Linked DNA regions of Homo sapiens: regions 1, 2 and 4 are each linked to region 3. Evidence: fine-mapped expression QTL. A gene starts in region 3. Each other region holds a variant in brackets. All regions are shown on one strand. Distances are from middle to middle. Region 1 overlaps GSDMB (gasdermin B). Region 2 overlaps CDK12 (cyclin dependent kinase 12). Region 3 holds the start of PGAP3 (post-GPI attachment to proteins phospholipase 3). Region 4 overlaps CDK12 (cyclin dependent kinase 12).

The links. PIP is the estimated chance that this variant, and not a neighbour inherited with it, causes the effect.
Region 1: its variant is the best candidate, but not a certain one, in a credible set for the expression of PGAP3 in whole blood (TOPMed, PIP 0.69).
Region 2: its variant is the best candidate, but not a certain one, in a credible set for the expression of PGAP3 in whole blood (INTERVAL, PIP 0.54).
Region 4: its variant is the best candidate, but not a certain one, in a credible set for the expression of PGAP3 in subcutaneous fat (GTEx, PIP 0.79).

The regions. Positions count from the first base shown.
Region 1 is chr17:39,911,186-39,916,185 of GRCh38, forward strand. GSDMB (gasdermin B) reads right to left here. Exons shown (of 11, transcript NM_001165958.2): 3 at 1,141-1,312. Among named protein-coding and RNA genes, the nearest start is that of GSDMB, 4.9 kb to the right of the region's middle. The variant G/A (reference allele first, on the strand shown) is at 2,305.
Region 2 is chr17:39,473,900-39,479,099 of GRCh38, forward strand. The region is part of intron 2 of CDK12 (cyclin dependent kinase 12); the gene reads left to right. Among named protein-coding and RNA genes, the nearest start is that of CDK12, 15 kb to the left of the region's middle. The variant C/T (reference allele first, on the strand shown) is at 2,419.
Region 3 is chr17:39,685,056-39,690,255 of GRCh38, forward strand. PGAP3 (post-GPI attachment to proteins phospholipase 3) reads right to left here and starts at 3,002. Exons shown (of 8, transcript NM_033419.5): 1 at 2,779-3,002; 2 at 867-964. The coding sequence starts at 2,959. It also overlaps a transcript of ERBB2 not described here. RefSeq lists enhancers at 3,021-3,130, 3,841-4,801 and a silencer at 4,081-4,375.
Region 4 is chr17:39,503,892-39,509,091 of GRCh38, forward strand. The region is part of intron 6 of CDK12 (cyclin dependent kinase 12); the gene reads left to right. Among named protein-coding and RNA genes, the nearest start is that of CDK12, 45 kb to the left of the region's middle. The variant G/A (reference allele first, on the strand shown) is at 3,257.

The DNA.
Region 1 (5,000 bases), 230 kb after region 3:
GGTGGCGGGCACCTGTAGTCCCAGCTCCTCGGGAGGTTGAGGCAGAAGAATCTCTTGAATCCAGGAGGCAGAGGTTGCAGTGAGCCAAGAATGTACCATTGCACTCCAGCCTGGGCAACAAAAGTGAAACTCCATCTCAAAAAAAAAAAAAGGAAAAGGAAAAGAAAAAAGGTACCCGCTCCACTCAAGGAGAGCAAGGCCAGGAAAACTGTGGGTCACCTTCCCCTGAGCTACTCCTCAATCTCCAACAATCCCAGCTGAAGAAAACAACAACAGAACTATTGCTGAGGGGATGGCTAGTGATGTCCTCTTGAATTGGAAGCACCTGCCCACCAGCTACCAGAACCTCTGTGGCACTGGATCGGTGCCACCCTGCTGGGGTGGGGTGGCTGTACTCCATGCAGGAAACATCCTCCAAGGGGTTCTTTGCTTTCCTCGTGCTTCACTTCAGCTCTCTTTCACTCAGTACCTACTGTGTGCTTGGGGTCAATACAGAGAGGTTAGTAAAGTCAGTCCCTTGTCACAAGTTGCTTCCAGTCCAGTGGGAAAGACGAACATGGAAGCCACTGGCTTGCCCACAAGGCAGAGGGAAACAAGCACAAAATACTGATGTGGGCAGCTCAGTGCAGGAGAGCAGAGGAGAGCAAAGGAGAGTGCCTCTTAAACCACCAGGTTTGGAGGTGGAGGTTGCAGTGAGCCGAGATCATGCCATTGCACTCTAGCCTGGCCGACAGAGCGAGACTCCGTCTCAAAAAAAAACAAAACAAAAACCAAACAAAAAAAAAACAACCAGGTTTGTCCAAGTCAGAGGAATTAACCATCCTGGGGGACAGCAGGGATATGAGTGAATTGGGGGCATCAGAAGGCTTCCTGGAGACTGCTCCTGGGTGAATGAGAAGGCTTCTGGAGGCAGAGAAGAGGAAGGCGTGCTTGCGTAAAGGGGAGGGCTGAGGGAATCCTGGAAGTAGAGAGCGAGAGGCTGCCCTAGAGAGCCAGTCCCCCACAAAGCTCATGAAAAGCAGGGAAAAGAAAAATAAAAATAAATAAATTTTAAAAAGAGCCGGTCTGCCACCCTTGAATCCCTTGGTGCCCAAGATGGGCTTCTTCCCCTCCTTCCCTGCTGCCCAACTCCAACCTCACCTGTTTTCAAGGGTAGCCAGATACTGCTGGGATATCCGGTTCTCCGATATCTTGATTTTCTGATGGTGGAAGCCCTGGAAACTGCCTGAAATTGTTATTTCTTTGGGTAATCTCACTATCAACTCTCCCGTTGAGTCTACATTATCCAGAATTTGAAACTCAGCCTTTTGACCTGGAAAGAGAATGATAAAGGTCACTCTGGAGCAGACCCCCAAAAGATCTCTCTCCAAAACACCCTCCCTGGGGCAGCCCCATCCTGGGTTCCGTGCCACCATCCCCCTCCCTTCTGAGGGAGCGCCACAGCTGTGGCTGTCCAGGAAATGCTGTTCTCACCAGAAGCACAGTTACCTTGGGGTCACAGGATCCCAGATTTGAGCCCACTCCTCCACCTTCTTACCACATGACCTTGGGTAAGTCACTTAACCTCTTTGAATCTGTTTCTTCATCTATAGTAGGAGAATATTACTAATGTCTACTTCCTATATTTAGGGAAATTAGGGCTGGGCACAGTGGCTCACGCCTGTAATCCCAGAACTTTGGGAGGCTGTGGCAGGCAGATCACTTGAGGTCAGGAGTTCGAGACCAGCCTGGCCAATATGGTGAAACCCCGTCTCTACTAAAAAATACAAAAAGTAGCCAGGCCTGGTGGTGTGTGCCTGTAATCACAGCTACTTGAGAGGCTGAGGCATGAGAATCGCTTGAACCCAGGAGGCGGAGGTTGCAGTGAGCTGAGATCACACCACTGCACTCCAGCCTGGAGGAGAGTGACACTCTGCCTCTCTGCCTCAAAACAAAACAAAACAAAACAAGAAAAAGAAAAGGAAAGGAAAAGAAAAGAAATGAAGAAATTAAATATAATGATGTAGTTAAGCACTTAACCAAGTGCCTGGCATACATTCTAACTGCTTAATAATTGTAAGCCAGTCTTGTAGGCTGAAACAAGACAAAGAAAAGTAAAGCTAAAGAAGTAGGAGCCCCAGCCAATTGGGAAATAAAAATTAAGCAGTTCTGGGTGGGCACGGTGGGGTGGCTCACGCCTGTAATCCCAGCACTTTGGGAGGCTGAGGTGGGTAGATCACTTGAGGTCAGGAGTTGGAGACCAACCTGGCCAACATGGTGAAACCCCATCTCTACCAAATTAGTCGGGGGTGGTGGCACATGCCT[G/A]TAATTCCAGCTACTTGGGAGGCCGAGGCAGGAGAATCGCTTGAACCTGGGAGGCAGAAGCAAAGACTGCAGTGAGCCAAGATCAAGCCACTGCACTCCAGCCTGGGCGACAGCGAGACTCCATCTCCAATAAAAGCAGTTCTGTCGCTGTTGTTTGTATGAACCACACAAGTATGAAGTGAGGCAACCCTGGAAAGTCACAAACACGCATGGACTCGGCCCTGATTGATCAGGCACTAATAAGGGCCTTGGTTCTGAGTCAGTTGCCACCCCAGGTTCGTGGAGGATGTGTGGGCATGCCGAAGGGGCTGCGTGCCTTTGTCTCCAACCTCCCAGATGGGAACCTACAGGGGAGGGAGAGCTCCCACTGCTAGGTTTTGGAGGCAGGGCTGGATTTCCAAAGACAAATCCATTTTGGAACTGGTGGAAATGTGACAGAATTAGAAACAGTGACTGAAATCACTATTTGTGTGTACATGAGACACTAATGTCTTAGGGACCATTTGCTTCTTGAGCAGTGTAAAAGAAAAGAAAAATATCAGAGAGAAAAAGAAAAATAAAAACTATGTGCACAAAGAGTACTATATGAAGAAGAGGAAAAAGAGTAACTTCTGGTAGAGAAACCTGACAAACATTACCTCAGCCAAGTGATCAAGGTCAACATCAACAGTGATAGGTCATGTTGACAGTACGTACCCCTGATGTGATGTAATAGGAATGGTCCTTTACCTCTGTGGTCTTCCTCCCCGAGACCCAGAACCCAGTCTAACCATGAGAAAAAACATCAGCCAAATTCCAACAGAGGGACGTTCTACAGTATCCCTGACCAGTACTGCTCAAAACTGCTAAGATTATCCCAAACAGGTAAAGTCTGAGAAACTGTCACAGCCAAGAGGAGCCTAAGGAGACATGACAACGAAATGTAATGTAGGATCCTGGATGGGATTCTGGAATAGAAAAAGGACACTAGGTCAAAACTAAGATAACATGGGCTGGGTGCAGCGGCTCACACCTGTAATCCCAGCACTTTGGGAGGCCAAGGCGGGCGGATCACCTGAGGTCAGGAGTTCAAGACCAGCCTGGCCAACATGGTGAAACCTTGTCTCTACTAAAAATACAAAAAATTTGCCAGGTGTGGTGGCAGGCACCTATAATCCCAGCTACTCGGGAGGCTGAGGCAGGAGAACCACTTGAACCTAGAGGTGAAGGTTGCAGTGAGCCGAGATCGCGCCACTGCTCTCCAGCCTGGGCAATAGAGCGACACTCCATCTCAAAAAAAAAAAAAAAAAAGTTAATGTGAATAAAGTATGGACTTTAATAACAAACACAAAATCCTATGCACACTTTTTTTTTTGTTTTTTTTTGAGACGGAGTCTTGCTTTGTCGCCAGGCTGGAGTGCAGTGGTATAATCATGGCTCACTGTGCAACCTCCACCTCCCAGGTTCAAGCAATTCTCCTGCCTCAGCCTCCCGAGTAGCTGGGATTACAGGCATGCGACACCACGCCCAGCTAATTTTTGTATTTTTAGTAAAGACAGGGTTTTGCCATGTTGGCCAGGCTGGTCTCGAACTCCTGGCCTCAAGTGATCCGCCCGCCTCAGCCTCCCAAAGTGCTGGGATTACAGGCATGCGCCATCATGCCCAGCTAATTTTTGTATTTTTAGTAGAGACAGGGTTTCGCCATGTTGGCCAGGCCAGACTTGAACTCCTGACCTCAAGTGATCCACCCGCCTCAGTCTCCCAAAGTGCTGGGATTACAGGCGCGAGCCACTGTGCCCAGCCCTATGCACACTTTAACTGCACCATCAGCATTATACAGTTACAAAATAACCCATTTAAATAGGGAGCAGACCAAGCTAAAAATCAATTCAAATTACCAATTCCCATCATTGTAAGGATTTTCTTTTTAAGTTTGGTTTCACCTCTGCCTCCGAATTTTGTATGCACACAGATGAGCTTTTCCTTAAAGGAAGTTGACTGACTTAGTCAATTTTTTTTTCCCAGACTTAAACTTTGCCCTGTCCCTGGGGAGTAATATTATTGTGGCAAAACATCCTAGTTCTGGGTTAAAGTATTTTTCCATTTTCAGTGAATTGATCATTTGGCAAACTGATTTTTTTTTTTTTTTTTGAGAGCTGACTTTTAGCAAATTGGCTCTTAGCAATTTACTTTTCAGAGAATTGACTCAGTCTTTGAAAGATGCGAATCTGAAATTTCTCCAAAAGCCCCTTGCTTGCTTAACGAAACTCTGCTTGTGGAAAGGTCCACCACCTCCAAGTAATCTGGGTACTGCTCTTGGTCACTTAAAGCAGTTCCTGGCACACTGTAATACTCTAAAGCTGCTCAGGGCTGTTAGAGCTCTTTTCCGTCTCTTGGCATGAGACCTCATAAAAAGAAATGGACTGTATCAGAGAGGTCTGAGCTATGAGCGCCTTGCTATTGTTCATATTATGAAATATTTTTTCACATTATGAAATATAATGAACTCCTCACCATATTCCACTTTGGGCTCCAAGTGAGAGTTCAACACTTAACCCTGGGGCTTCTGAAACCCAAGTACCCCAGGAATAACTGAGATCAGAGGCAGGGGGTTGGAATAATTGACTCTTCCATAAATTCCCTCAATACCTTAGGGATTTCTGCTCATCAGAAACTTCCCCTTCAGTCTTGATAGCCAAGGAACATGAAAGGATAAT
Region 2 (5,200 bases), 210 kb before region 3:
AAGAAAAATTAGCCAGGCGTGGTGGCAGGCGCCTGTAATCCCAGCTACTCAGAAGGCTGAGGTGGGAGGATTGCTTGAACTCAGGAGGCAGAGGCTGCAGTGAGCCGAGGTCATGCCACTGCACTCCAGCCTGGGTGACAGAGCGAAACTTTGTCTCAAAACAGTATATATGTATTTCCTTAATATCTTGACAGGACTAACTAGGCAAGTACCACCAAACACACTTGCTTTAGCAGTGACATGTGATGGCAGTCTTTGTGTTATGGTTTGCTTATTCTACTGTGATATTGTGCTCTTTGGGATGTGAATTGCATTTATTGAAACAAACTTTTCATTGTAAGCACAAAATTAAGTGCCACCGATCTTGCATCCTAGCCTAATTCCCAAGCCTTCATTCCTTTCAAGGTGATAATTGTAATTTTATTTCATTTTATTTTGAGACAGGATCTGGCTCTGTCCCCCAGGCTGGAGTGCAGTGGTGTGATCTGGGCTTATTGCAACTTCTGCCTCCCAGACTCAAGTGATCCTCCCACCTCAGCTTCCTGACTAGTTGGGATTACAGGTGCATGCCACTACACCCGGCTAATTTATTTTTTGTAGACATGGGGTTACATCATGTTGCCCAGGTTGGTCTTGAGCTCCTGGACTCAAGTGATCCGCTTGCTTTGGCCTTCCAAAGTGTTGGGATTACAGGCATGAACCACCACTCCCGGCCAATATTGGTCATTTGAATGATGATACATTGCAGCCCTCTGGGTGAGAAAGTATGTTTTTTCGTACCCTCTGTTCTTTAGAGAAGATGCAAGTACAGTAAATGGAAAGGGGGAAAAAAACTATTTTAAGGAATGGCTCCATCACTATAGAAAGAAATATGATGTTTCCTTTTTTTTTTTTTTTTTTTTTTGGCATTACCAGACTGCCAAAATCTGATTTTTTATTTTTATTTTTTTTTGAGATGGAGTCTCTTTCTGTTGCCCAGGCTGGAGTGCAATGGCGCGATCTCAGCTCACTGCAGCCTCTGCCTCCTGGGTTCAAGTGATTCTCATGCCTCAGCTCCTCTGAGTAGCTGAGATTACAAGCATGTGCCACCATGCCTGGCTAATTTTTGTATTTTTAGTAGAGACAGGGTTTCACCATGTTGGCCAGGCTGGTCTCGAACTCCTGACCTTAAATGATTCTCCCACCTGGGCCTTCCAAAGTGCTGGGATTACAGGCATGAGCCACTGCACCCAACCCAAAATGTGATTTTAAAGAAAAATTCCATATACTCTTTCTAACATTAATAGGTATTTATGGACTGAGCTTTGTGGATGTAATCCCAGTACTTTGGGAGGCCATGGTGGGAGGACTGTTTAAGGCCAGGAGTTCAAAACCAGCCTGGACAACAACATAGTGAGACCCCATCTCTATAAAACATTTAAAAATTAGTTGGATGTGGTGGCAGGTACCTTTAGCCCTAGCTACTTGGGAGGCTGAGGCAGGAGGATCACTTGAGCCCAGGAGTTCAAGGCTACGGTGAACTATGATTGGGCCACTGTACGCCAGCTTGTGTGAAAGAGACCCTGTCTTTAAAAATAAAATTTTAATTAAAAAGTAATAACAAATTCTGCCACGTGATGAAAATTACAGAAGAGAAGAGAACCTGAAATTTTTTTTTTTTTTTTTTGAGACGGTGTCTCACACTGTTGTCCGGGCTGGAGTGCAGTGGCGATCTTGGCTCACTGCAAACTCCATCTCCCAGGTTCAGGCGATTCTTCTACCTTAGCCTCCCGAGTGGCTAGGATTACAGGTGCCTGCCACCACGCCCAGCTAATTTTTTGTATTTTTAGTAGAGACAGGGTTTCACCATGTTGGCCAGGCTGGTCTCGAACTCCTGACCTCGTGATTCGCCCACCTAGGCCTCCCAAAATACTGAGATTACAGGTGTGAGCCACCATGTCAGGAACAGAATCTCAAATTTATGTGGAAAAAATTAACTTGAGGTCCAAAATATAGATAGATAAAAGCCATAGATAAAAAGATAAAAGCCATATTTTTATAGTTTTTGTTGGAAAAGGAAATAGTTGAGCATTGTCCAAAGGGACCCTGGCCCTTTAGCTATAGGAACCTCATTTCAATACTTGTTTACATAGTGGCTAGAATATTAATGTGGGTAAGAATCTTGATTTTTTTTTTTTTTACTTCAGAAAAATGTTTAGGAAACAAAAAGCATCTTGATGATTTTTTTCTTTTTTGAGATAGATTCTCTCTCCATAGCCAGGCTGGAGTGCAGTGGCAAGATCTTGGCTCACTGCAACTTCCCAGGGTTCAAGCGATTCTCCTGTCTCAGCCTCCCGAGTAGTTGGGACCACAGGCACCCGCCACCACACCCAGCTAATTTTTGTATTTTTAGTAGAGGTAGGGTTTCACCATATTTCT[C/T]CTGGATGGTCTCGATGTCTTGATCTCATGATCTGTCCGCCTCAGCCTCCCAAAGTACTGAGATTACTGGCATGAATCCCCGTGCCCCAACTATTTATTATTTTATTTATTTATTTTTTGAGATGGAATTTTTGCCCTTGTTGTCCAGGCTGGAGTGCAGTGATGTGATCTCGGCTGCATCCGCCTCCCGGGTTCAAGCAATTCTCCTGCCTCAGCCTCCCAAGTAGCTGGGATTGCAGGCACCTGCCACCATGTTCAACTAATTTTGTATTTTTAGTAGACAATGGGTTTCGCCCTGTTGGCCAGGCTGGTCAGGAACTCCTGATCTCAGGTGATCTACCTGCCTTGGCCCCACAAAGTGCAGAGATTACAGGCATGAGCCACCATGCCTGCCTTTTTTTTTTTTTTTTTTTTTTTTTTTTTGAGACAGAGTTCTGCTCTGTCGCCCAGGCTGGAGTGCAATGGGGCAATCTCAGCTCACGCAACCTCCGCCTCCCAAGTTCAAGCGATTCTCCTGCCTTAGCCTCCTGAGTAGCTTGGATTACGGGTGCCCACCACCACGCCTGGCTAATTTGTGTATTTTTATTAGAGATGGGGGTTTCACCATGTTGGTTACAAACTCCTGACCTTAAATGATCCACCTGCCTCGGGCTTCCAACGTGCTGGAATTACAGGCGTGAACCACCAAGTCCAGCCCTAATCTAATTATTATTATTATTTTTTGAGACAGTCTCACTCTGTTGCCCAGGCTGGAGTGCAGTGGTGCCATCTTGGCTCACCACAACCTCCACCACCAGGGTTCAAGCGATTCTCCTGCCTCAGCCTCCTGAGTAGCTGGGACTACAGGTGTGTGCCACCATGTCTGGCTAATTTTTGTAGTGTTTTTATTTTTGTTTTTGTTTTAGATGAAGTCTGGAGTCTCACTGTTGCCCAGGCTGGAGTGAGTCTCACCCTGTTGCCCAGGCTGGAGTGTAGTGGCGCGATCTTGGCTCACCACAACCTCCACCTCCTGGGTTCAAGCGATTTTCCTGCCTCAGCCTCCCAAGTAGCTGGGACTACAGGCGCATGCCACCATGCCCAGCTCATTTTTTTGTATTTTTAGTAGAGACGGGGTTTCACTGTGTTGGTCAGGCTGGTCTCGAACTCCTGACCTCAGGTGATCCACCCACCTTGGCCTCCCAAAGTGCTGGGATTACAGACGTGAGCCACTGTGCCCAGCTAATTTTTGTATTTTTATTTTTATTTATTTATTATTTATTTTTTTTTTTTTTTTGAGTCAGAGTCTTGCTCTGTCGCCCAGGCTGGAGTGCAGTGGCTCGATCTTGGCTCACTGCAAGCTCCACCTCCTGGGTCCACGCTATTCTTCTGCCTCAGCCTCCCGAGTAGCTGGGACTACAGGCGCCTGCCACCACGCCCAGCTAATTTTTTGTATTTTTTAGTAGAGATGGGGTTTCGCCGTGTTAGCCAGGATGATCTCGATCTCCTGACCTCGTGATCTGCCCACCTTGGCCTCCCAAAGTGCTGGGATTACAGGCGTGAGCCACTGCACCCCGCCTATTTTTGTATTTTTAGTAGAGACGGGGTTTCACTACATTGACCAGGCTGGTCTTGAACTCCTGACTTCGGGGTCTGCCTGCCTCGGCCTCCCAAAGTGCTGGGATTACAGGCATGAGCCACTGCACCGGGCCCATCTAATTATTTTTAAACATGATTTTTTTTTTTTTTAGCCATCTCCTCCTCCACCTCTTTTTTTTTTTTTTTAAGAGACGGGGTCTTGCTATGTTGCCCAGGTTTGTCCCAAACTCCTCAACTCATGTGATCCTTCCACCTTGGCATCCCTAAATGCTGGCATTACATGTGTGAGCCACTGAGTTTGGCCATTATTTTTTTTTTTGAGATGGATTCCTGCTGTCACTCAAGCTGGAGTGCAGTGGCTCAATCTCAGCTCACTGCAACTTCTGCCTCTGGGGTTCACATGACTCTCCTGCCTCAGCCTCCCCAGTAGCTGGGACTACAGGCGCATGCCACCATATCCGGATAATTTTTTTGTATTTTTAGTAGAGACAGGGTTTCATCATGTCATCCAGGCTGGTCCCGAACTCCTGACCTTAGGTGATCCACCTGCCTTGGCCTCCCATAGTGCTGGGATTGGAAGCATGAGCCAACGTGCCCAGCCCTGGCCATGATTATTATCAGTATTCTACATATAAATAAATTATTAAAGGTAGAAAAACGGAAATAGACCAGGTGCTGTGGCTCACTCCTATAATCCCAGCCCTTTGGGAGGCCAAGGCAAGAGGCTTGTTTGAGCCCATGTGTTTTAGGCTACATAGCCAGACCCTGTTTCTACCATTAAACAAGAAAAGGCATGATAGCATGCACCTGTGGTCTGAGCTACTTGGGAGACTGAGGTGGGATGATTACTGGAGCCTGGAAGGTCAGAGCTACAGTGAGCCATGATCGCACCACTGCACTCTAGCCTGGATAACAGTGAGATGTTGTATCAAAGAAAATGAGATGAGGATGTCTTCCATTATCAATTTTATTTTTTTATTTTAAATTCATGATGTGTTTCTGTTTCTATTTTGTATGTGTGTGTGTGCTGCTATATCCATGTACCAGCTGCTCCATATCCATGTACCAGCTGCTCCTATCTTTGACATGAAAAGTAATTTTTACATAGGAAAGCTTTTTAGAAAGAAATCTAATGGCCGGGTGCGGTGGCTCACACCTGTAATCCCAGCACTTTGGAAGGCTGAGGCGGGCAGATCACGAGGTCAGG
Region 3 (5,200 bases):
AGACACAGGTCCCAACCCCTCCTCTACCACTGACCACGGTCCTTTGAGCCTCAGCTTACTCTGTGAAAAACTGGGGTGAATACTTCCTGCCAACCTCAACAGGCCAGAATGAGATAATACTGGATTGAAACGTACCAGCAGGCCAGGCGCGGTGGCTCACGCCTGTAATCCCAGCACTTTGGGAAGCTGAGGCGAGAGGGTCACAAGGTCAGGAGATTGAGACCATCCTGGCTAACATGGTGAAACCCCATCTCTACTTAAAAAAAAAAAAAAAAAAATACAAAAAATTAGCTGGGTGTGGTGGCACACACCTGTAGTCCCAGCTACTTGGGAGGCTCAGGCATGAGAATTGCTTGAACCTGGGAGGTAGAGGTTGCAGTGAGCCAAGATCATGCCACTGCACTCCAGCCTGGGCGACAGAGGGAGACTCCATCTCAAAAAAAAAAACAAAAAACAAAAAACAAAAGAAAGAAAGGTACCAGCAAACTGTGCCTCGCTAGACAAGCTGAAGCATATTACTGTGAATCCAGACCCCTACTGGAGAAGCAACAGGAAACAAGCCACAGTAGGTAAGGGAATTTGTCCCTGCAGTAAGGTGGGCATCTCAACCACTCTAAGAGGCCCAGCACCACTCTCTGGGGAGACTCCAAAGCCTTCCAGATATTGCTACTCCAAATCCAGAGGCAGGACACATGGGTCCTATCCAATTCTATGGAAACCAGCAGATTTTGGGGAGAACAGGTAGCTGCCCCAAACACACACGCATTACCCCATGCCTCAGACTGCTTGGACAGTGTGGTCCAACCAGGGGGTATATTACTCCTACCACGCTACTACCATATGCCTACCCTGACCCTCCAACTCACCTTGCCATGGAACTGAGGCACTTTGTGACCTTCCTGGAGGTAGAGCCCAACGGTGACCCACATACACTCATACTTACAGTCGTCCCGACAGGTCCAGCCTGAAACAGACAAATGTGGCCTGGTGAACTCCCCAGCACAGAGAGGAAAGAGAGAGCATGAATGGGGTCCAAGCGCAAATGTAGGCCAAGAGGGCCTGTAAGTTGGAGAGAACCAGGAGAAATCTCAAAATTCTAGCTTCCCCTTTGAATGAATGAGAGATGATGAGATGTACACATAGGGGAAGGTGTATGTACGTATGTATGCATATTTTAGTGAGCAATTAGAGATATTCGTCTTTTTTTTGTTTGTTTTTTTGAGACAGTTTTGTTTTTGTTGCCCAGGCTGGAGTGCAATGGTGCGATCTCGGTTCACTGCAACCTCCGCCTCCTGGGTTCAAGCGATTCTCCTGCCTCAGGCTCCCGAGTAGCTGGGATTACAGGCATGCACCACCACACCCAACTAATTTTGTATTTTTAGTAGAGATGGGGTTTCTCCATGTTGGTCAGGGTGGTCTTGAACTCCCAACCTCAGGTTATCTGCCTGCCTCTGCCACCTAAAGTGCGGGGATTGCAGGCACGAGCCACCGCACCCGGCATTTTTTTTTTTTTTTTTTTTTTGAGACAGGGTCTCGCTCTTTCATCCAGGCTGGAGTGCAGTGGGGAGAGCATGGCTCACCACAGCCTTGACCTCCTGGGCTCAAACGATCCTCCCACCTCAGCCTCCCAAGTAGCGAGACCACAATGTCTGGCTAATTCTTTTATTTTTTGTAGAGAAGGCATCTTGTCATGTTGCCTAGGCTAGTCTTGAACTCCAGGGCTCAGATGATCTTTCTACCTTGGCAGACATTTCCTCTCCTTTTGCTCAAGTCCATCAAGATGTTGGCATCTGATGAACTCATCTATGGAAACCTGGGTTTATATTTGTCCTTCCTGAATATAGGATTTGCTCTTACTCTCCTGGAAGGAGTTCTTGCTATCTTACTCCCTTCCTATGAAAATGAAGCCCAAATTCTTCAACCTGACTTTTGAGGCTCCAAATTGCCTTTCCAACCGTATTGGTCACTACTCCTGTTCATGTACCCTGCTCCCTGAGTAAATAAAGCTCCTGGATGTGCCCACATCTGCCCAGGGCATCCATTCTCTCTGTTCCCTCTGTCTGGAATGCAAAGTGGTATAATAGTAAAGAGGACAAGCTTGTGGTCAAACAGGCCAGAACTGGAAACTCCACTTTACTACATACTGGCTGTGTGACCTTGGGCAGGGCATTTAATCTCTCTAATCCCCATCTGTAAAACTGGGATTAGAGAAACTATCTCAAAGGGTGTGATAAAAATTACTTGACATATTGTGACACCTGTCACACAGTGAGTGCTCAATACGTTGGTTCTTTGCCCACTATGGTCCAAATCGAATGTACCAGTCCAAAGTCCCTCCTTCAAACAAAACGTTCCAAGATGATCCCTGCCCCCACGTCTTCAAAGCCGGAACTGACACCTTCCTATCCCAAATGCTTCCTAATCAAAGAGTCTTTCAGGGGCTCAAATCATTCTCTGCCTTGCACTTGAAAAGGCTCATGTCCCCGTGGGGACTGTGAGTCCCAATGGGCGGGACCCTGGTCTGATTTCTGTGCCATTCCTAGACATTGTGGCCCGAATGTATTTAATAAATACCCTTTTGACTGAACAAATAAGTAAATGAAAGCTTCTGGGAAAGTAAGAGAGGCTGGTAAGGCTCTCATCACCTTAGGGGCTTCACTCACATTCATAAGAGACCTCGTGGGGAAACTAAGGTTCAGGGATTGCAGAGGCGTATTGGGGGCGCAGGGGGCGGGAGCAAGACAAATGGGCGGGGCTTACCGTGGGGGTGGGGCTTACCTGCTAGACTCATGTAGATTGGCTGGCGGGAGCGGAAGTGATTCAGAGCGCCCCCAGAGCAGTTCTGCTCTTCGCACTGCAGTACGCAGTCGCGGTACACCGGCTCACGGTCGCCCTGGGAGCCGCTCGCCAGCGCCGCTGCCCCAGCTAGCAGGACCAACCGCGCCGCCAGGCCGGCCATCCTTTCTCCCTGGCTCGCCGCCGGGGGAGGAGCTTAGGAGTATGAAGCTTCCACTTCCGGAGTAACCGGAAGTTCCTGTGTTCTTTATTCTACTCTCCGCTGAAGTCCACACAGTTTAAATTAAAGTTCCCGGATTTTTGTGGGCGCCTGCCCCGCCCCTCGTCCCCCTGCTGTGTCCATATATCGAGGCGATAGGGTTAAGGGAAGGCGGACGCCTGATGGGTTAATGAGCAAACTGAAGTGTTTTCCATGATCTTTTTTGAGGTAGGGCTGTTTACTGTCACCACCCCTGTCGGATTTTACTTCCTAAACGTACCTGTAACTATCCACTTCTCTCCATCTCTTCTGGCACCACCCTGGTTAAAGACACCATCATGTGTCGCCAAGACAGCCGCAGTAGCTTCTTAATGGCTCTCCCTGCCTCTACTTTTGCCTCTTCCAACCTGCGCTCCATTTTGAAAAATTAAAATTTGCCCATATCACTTTTTTTTTCTTAAAATTATTTACTGGCTCCCAATTACCTTGGGTAAAATACAGTCTCCACAAACCCTGCCTGATTTGGCCCCTGTCCACTGGTCTCCCTCACTCCCTTGCTCCAGACCCGCTTCAGAGGGCTATGTCCCTCAAGCTTCCTGACTGCCTGGCCTGGTCTGAATCACTCACTCTTCTTTTTTCTTCTAGTCGCAATTGAAGTACCACCTCCCGAGGGTGATTGCTTCCCCATGCGGGGTAGAACCTTTGCTGTCCTGTTCACCACTCTACCTCCAGCACAGAATTTGGCTTATGGTAGGCGCTAACTGCGTTTGTTTGTTCTTCTGTTTAATGAATGAACAGCATACATCAACATAAGAACTTGACAAATCCAGGGCTGTAAAATCATCAGTATGGTTCTGCACTGAGATCGGAGAGAAGTAATATTTCTAGGAAAATTAGGAACCCTGGGAACAGGACGCTTGCTTTAGTATCCTCTCCCTGCTCACCTCCCCTGCACTCCCATCAGCACCGACCCACACCCAATCTCATAGAAGCCTTGTAGCTAAGGATCACCCTTTCTCCTCCCCCACTCTCCTCACCCCTTGTCAACTTTTCTTTTTCGTCCTGGGGGTTGGAATGAGTAAGAAGTAGCCTGGGATTCCATTCACTCACTTAACAAACATTTCTGAGTCCTTAGCTCTAGCACCTTGCTAAGCAAGGCAAAATCTCCAGGAGGCACCATTCACATTGCATTTTCTGTGAATGGTGCTCTGGGGAGCAGCATTCACATTGCCTTTTCTGTGAATGGCAAATTCTTCCAGTTAAATATAACATGAATAGTGTCCCCTGGAGTTGACCACCCAACTGATACTGACTGAGAAGCTGAAATGAACAAAACAACCCCTTAGCCCTCCAGGAGCTGACCGGAAATCCAGTGCTAATACTACTTTGCATCTTACAGATTAGTTCTTTTACAATACTGTTTTTTTTTCTTTTTTCATTTCATTTTGTCCTTTCTGTGACTCTGGGATGAGTCTTTTTATGAGGATCCTCATATAAAGATGGACATTTAGGATTAAAGAGGATGAAATCCTGACAAAATAGGGAGTCTCCCCTTTAGAAAATTCCTAAGTAAGGCTGGGGGTGGTGGCTCACGCCTGTAATCCCAGCACTTTGGGAGGCCGAGGCGGACGGATCACCTGAGGTTAGGAGTTTGAGACCAGCCTGACCAACATGGAGAAACCCCATCTCTACTAAAAATACAAAATTAGTTGGGTGTGGTGGTGCATGCCTGTAATCCCAGCTACTCAGGAGGCTGAGGCAGGAGAATCGCTTGAACCCAGGGAGGCAGAGGTTGTGGTGAGCCAAGATTGCGCCATCGCACTCCAGCCTGGGCAACAAGAGCGAAACTCAAAAAAAAAAAAAAAAAGAAAAAGAAAATTCCAATTTTGAAGGCCTCATCCTATATTATGTCAAACATACTGAAATGCAGTAACGCCCCACATTAAATAAGATTTATAAATAACTATACATATATATAATTCAATCTAATTGCTGTTAATAGTTGACATATTGCTACATTTATATACATTTAGTTAAAAAAAATTTTTTTTCCCAGACAGCCTCTCACTCTTTCACCTAGACTGAAGTGCAGTGGCATGATCACGACTCACTGCAACCTCAACCTCCCAGACTCAAGTGATCCTTCCATCTCAGCCTCCTGAGTAGCTGGGACTGCAGCATGCGCCACTATGCCCTGCTAATTTT
Region 4 (5,200 bases), 180 kb before region 3:
TAGAAGAGAGACACAGTCAATCTTCTGTTTTGGAAAGGTCACCAAATTATCAGTTTATGCCGATAAACTGGAGGCAGAGAGACCCTCTAAGAACTTCGTAATAAATGGTCAGTGCTGGAAATAACCCAGACACCACTAGTAGGGATGGACTCGGTAGATCTGTAGACTTTGGTTGAGTGAGTGTATGGTAGATAATGAATTAGAGAAAGTAAGATAACTCACAGGTTTCTGACTTGAAAAACTAGCTAGATGGGTGGCACTACTAGTCAATACAAGGAAGATGGAAGAGTAGGATGGATGGAGTAACAGGCAAATCTCTTTTGAATATGTCTTTTATATATCCAGGGTAGTGATATTTAATAGCATATGGTCATTTGGGAATTCCAAACTACCAATACAGAGTTGGTAGTTACAGAACATAGAAAAGATGTCAGAAATGTAACCCAAGAGAGATGGTCAGAGAGATAGGAAGAAAATAAGGAAAATATGAATGCAAGATAGGCAGGTTTAAGAAGGGAGTGGTGATTGATGTCAGATGATGCAGGCAAATTATAAGAGAATCTGAAAATTAAAAGGTCAGTAGTGATAATTAGTGTGGAGTAAGGGGTTGAGTAGCACAGTTAATGGGAAGGTACTGGTAGGGGGTGTCTTTAATTTTTAATTTTAAGGATGGCAGAGATTTGAATATATTTAAATGCTAAGGGGAGGCCAACGTGGTGGCTCACATGTGTAATCCTAACACTTTGGGAGGCTGAAGTGGGCAGGTCACTTGATGCTAGGAGTTCGAGACCAGCCTGGCCAACATAGCAAAATTCTGTCTCTACTAAAAGTACAAAAATTAGCTGAGCTTGGTGGTGCACGCATCTAATCCCAGCCACGTGGGAGGCCAAGGCATGAGAACTGCTTGAACCTGGGACACAGAGGTTGCAGTGAGCAGAGATTGCCACCACTGCACTCCATCCTGGGTGACAGAACAAGACCCTGTCTCAAAAAAAAAAAAAAAAAAAACGCTAAGGAGAAAGAAAATCTATAAAAAGGGAGCAGTTGAAGATTTGGGGGCCAGGCGCAGTGGCTCACACCTGTAATCCCAGCACTTTGGGAGGCCGAGGCGGACGGATCATGAGGTCAGGCGTTCAAGATCATCTTGTCCAACATGGTAAAACCCCGTCTCTACTAAAATACAAAAAATTAGCTGGGCATGGTGGCGCATGCCTGTAATCCCAGCTACTTGGGAGGCTGAGGCAGCGGAATCACTTGAACCCAGGAGACAGAGGTTGCAGTGAGCTGAGATCGCGCCACTGCACTCCAGCCTGGCAACAGAGCAAGACTCCGTTTCAAAAAAAAAAAAAAAAAGGCCAGGCGCGGTGGCTCACACCTGTAATCCCAGCACTTTGGGAGGCCAAGGCGGGCAGATCACGAGGTCAAGAGATCGAGACCATCCTGGCCAACATGGTGAAACCCCGTCTCTACTAAAAATATAAAAATTAGCTGGGTGTGGAGGTGCGTGCCTGTAGTCCCAGCTACTCAGGAGGTTGAGGCAGGAGAATCACTTGAACCCGGGAGGTGGAGGTTGCAGTGAGCTGAGATCGCACCACTGCACTCCAGCCTGGTGACAGAGCGAGACTCCGTCTCAAAAAAAAAAAAAAAAAAAAGATTTGGGAAAGAACCAAAATAATTTAAAGGAGCATATTTCTAGAATAGATGGGATCAAGGCCACAGATGGAGGGATTGATTATCCTTGGTCAAGAAAAGAGATTGACATGCTTTTTATGTACCATTGACCGTTGAACAACGCAGGTTTGAACTGTGGCATGTCCACTTATACACAGATTTTATCCAACCAAAAACAAATAAAAAACAGTGTTTGCAGTATATGCAACCTGTTTATATGGAGTACCAGTGTTTCATATATGCAGGTTCTATAAAGCGTACTGCAGGACTTGAGTTTGCTTGAATTTTGGTATATGTGGGAGTCTTGGAACCAATTGCTAGATATACTAAGGGATGACTGTAATTAAAAGGAAAGAGGAAAGTAAAATTATAGATGGAAGTAAGTTTACTGGTAAAAGGTAGGATGTTAAGGACCTCTCACCTAATGACTTTAATTTTTTCACTGAAAAAGGTCATTTACTAAGTAAGTGTAAGAGGGTAGGGGATGGATTAGAGCATTAAGGAGAATGCCAGAGGTCTGTAATGACAGCCATGTTGAATGGAAGTTGCTGATTACAGACAAGTAAAAGGACTAACCAGCAGCATTCAGGAATTAACAGAGAGAGGAAATCACACATTTTGCAGTGACACCATACAATATGATTATATGATTTTTTTTTTTTTTTTTTTTTTGAGATGGAGTCTCACTCTGTCACCAGGCTGGAATGTAGTGGCGCTATCTCGGCTCACTGCAACCTCTGCCTCCCGGTTCAAGCCCTTCTCCTGCCTCAGCCTTCCGAGTAGTTGGGAATACAGGCGCATGCCACCACGCCTGGCTAATTTTTGTATTTTTAGTAGAGACGGGGTTTCACCATGTTGGCCAGGCTGGGTCTCAAACCTCTGACCTCAAGTGATCCACCCACCTCAGCCTCCTAAAGTGCTAGGATTACAGACGCGAGCCACCACGCCTGGCCAATTATATGATTTTTATTCTTTACACTTGTGTTCAGCTCTCTAGGTAGAGCAGAAAAGACAGATTTTCTAATGATCCAGAATTAGGGACTTAGGGATTAGCTATATCACAAGCTAAGGCAACGAGGAAGACAATAGTTTGGTTAATTAACCAAGGGGTCCAGGTAGGCAAGGGAAGGAAGTATTACGTGAAAGAGGGCTGAACTGGGAGTGAGTGGAGGCACTGTGTACTTGAAGTTCTTCTCAAAAGGCAAAAATGTTAAACCATGGTCTCAGAAAGGATTCTCCAGATATTTCTATATTCACCTTATTCCTTTGAGACAGGACATAAACAATATGATGGCACTTCTTTTGTATTGTATTTTATTTTGTTTATTTACTTATTTTATATTTTATTTTTTGAGATGGAGTCTCACTGTGTCACCCAGGCTGGAGTGCAGTGGCACAATCTCAGCTCACTGCAACCTCCGCCTCCCAGGTTCAAGCGATTCTCCCACCTCAGCCTCCCAAGTGGCTAGGACTACAGGTGTCTGCCGCCACGCCCAGCTAATTTTTGTATTTTTAGTAGAGACAGGGTTTTACCATGTTGGCCAGGCTGGTCTCAAACTCCTGACTTAAGTGGTCCGCCTGCCTC[G/A]GTCTCCCAAAGTGTTGGGACTACAGGCGTGAGCCACTGCGCCCGGCCTGTTCTATTTTATATTGCAAAAAGTTACAAGTACTTCCACACTTCATACTGAGTCACCTTAATGGTTTAGTTGGAAGGAAAAGTGGGAGTCAGTAAAAGTGCTATCAGCGGCCGGGCGCGGTGGCTCATGCCTGTAATCCCAGCACTTTGGGAGGCCGAGGCAGGCGGATCACCTGAGGTAGGGAGTTCAAGACCAGCCTGACCAACATGGAGAAACCCCATCTCTACTAAAAATACAAAATTAGCCGGGCGTAGTGGCACATGCCTGTAATCCCAGCTACTCGGGAGGCAGAGGTTGTAGTGAGCCGAGATAGCGCCATCGCACTCCAGCCTTGGCAACAAGATTGAAGCTCAGTCTTAAAAAAAAAAAAGTGCTATCAGCAGGTTCTGTAGCAGACTAAATTCGTTTAATAAACATTTATTTAGTACCTAGTATGAGCCAGGCAGGAAATATGTTAGATGCTGGTGATATTCAGGTCTACACTGATTTCTGTAACTATATATCCATTTCCATTTTGACTTTCAGTCCTACTATGTGCCTTGAATCTTACATAATTTCAGGCTTTCAGAGTAAGGATGCCAAGTAATTTGAGGAATCATCTTTGTCTTAATATAAGTTAACTATTTCTTGTTGCTTTTCTCACAATTTGCTTATAAATTGAACTTAATGTAATGGTGTTTGGGGCAAGTGGATAAGGTACCTTTAACTTCACTAGGAATAAGCATTGATTTAATGTAGAAGTTTGTTGCTAGTAGTTACCTTGTTTTAATATTGTCACATGTCCATATTTTGGGGAGCACCTCTTGGCCTCTTTTCTGTACTACATGTTGAGTATCCCCTGTGCTTGAGACGAGAATTCTTTTGGATTTCAGATTTTTTTTAGATTTTGGAATATTTACATTATACTTACTGGTTCTGAACATCCAAAATCTGAAATGTTCCACTGAGCATTTCCTTTGAGTGTCATGTTGGCACTCAAAAAGTTTCAGATTTTGCTTCAGACGGCGGGGGGAGAAGGTTCTGAAAAATTTTGGATTTCACATTTTTGGATTTGGATGCACAATCTATATCTCACTTTTTTGCCTGATCTGAACTATTAGACACCTACACCAGCTTCCTATAAGACAGTGAGCTGGCTTTTCATGTCCCAAGAAGTAGCAAGGCTGTAAATATGACTAAACAGGTTACATGAATTTAGATAAATATCATTAATCCAAAGTAGTCAATAAGTAGTTGTTGGGTTTTGCATTGCCCACCCCCTCCAATAAATAAATAGTTTTAAAATAGATTCCCAACATCTCGTCTTGCAGTTTTCAAAAATATTCCTTCATGCAGGAGGAGAGAGAGCATCAGGAAAAATAGCTAATGCTTGCTGGGCTTAATACTTAGGCGATGGGTCAATAGGTGCAGCAAACCACCATGGCACACATTTACCTACGTAACAAACCTCATGTACCCTGGAACTTAAAAAAAAAAATTCCTTTATATCACTGTCAAGGATAGAATACTGAGCAGAGGCCAGTCATGGTGGCCCATGCCTGTACTCCCAGCCCTTTGGGAGGCTGAGGAGGGAGGATCACTTGAGCACAGGAATTTAAGACCAGCCTAGGCAACATAGGGGAACTCTGTCTCTACAAAAAATAAAATAATTAGCTGGACATATTGGTGCACACCTATAGTCCCAGCTACTTGGGAGGCTGAGGCTGGAGAATCACTTGAACCTGGGAGATCATCAAGGCTACAGTGAGCCAGGGTTACACCATTGCACTCCAGCCTAGGTAATAGAGTGAGACTCTGTCTCAAAAAAAAAAAAAAAAAATCAGCAGAGTGAAACATGGTTGGGATCTCCTTGAAGTGATTCTCAAAGCCTGATTCTCAGGCCAGCTGCATTGGCA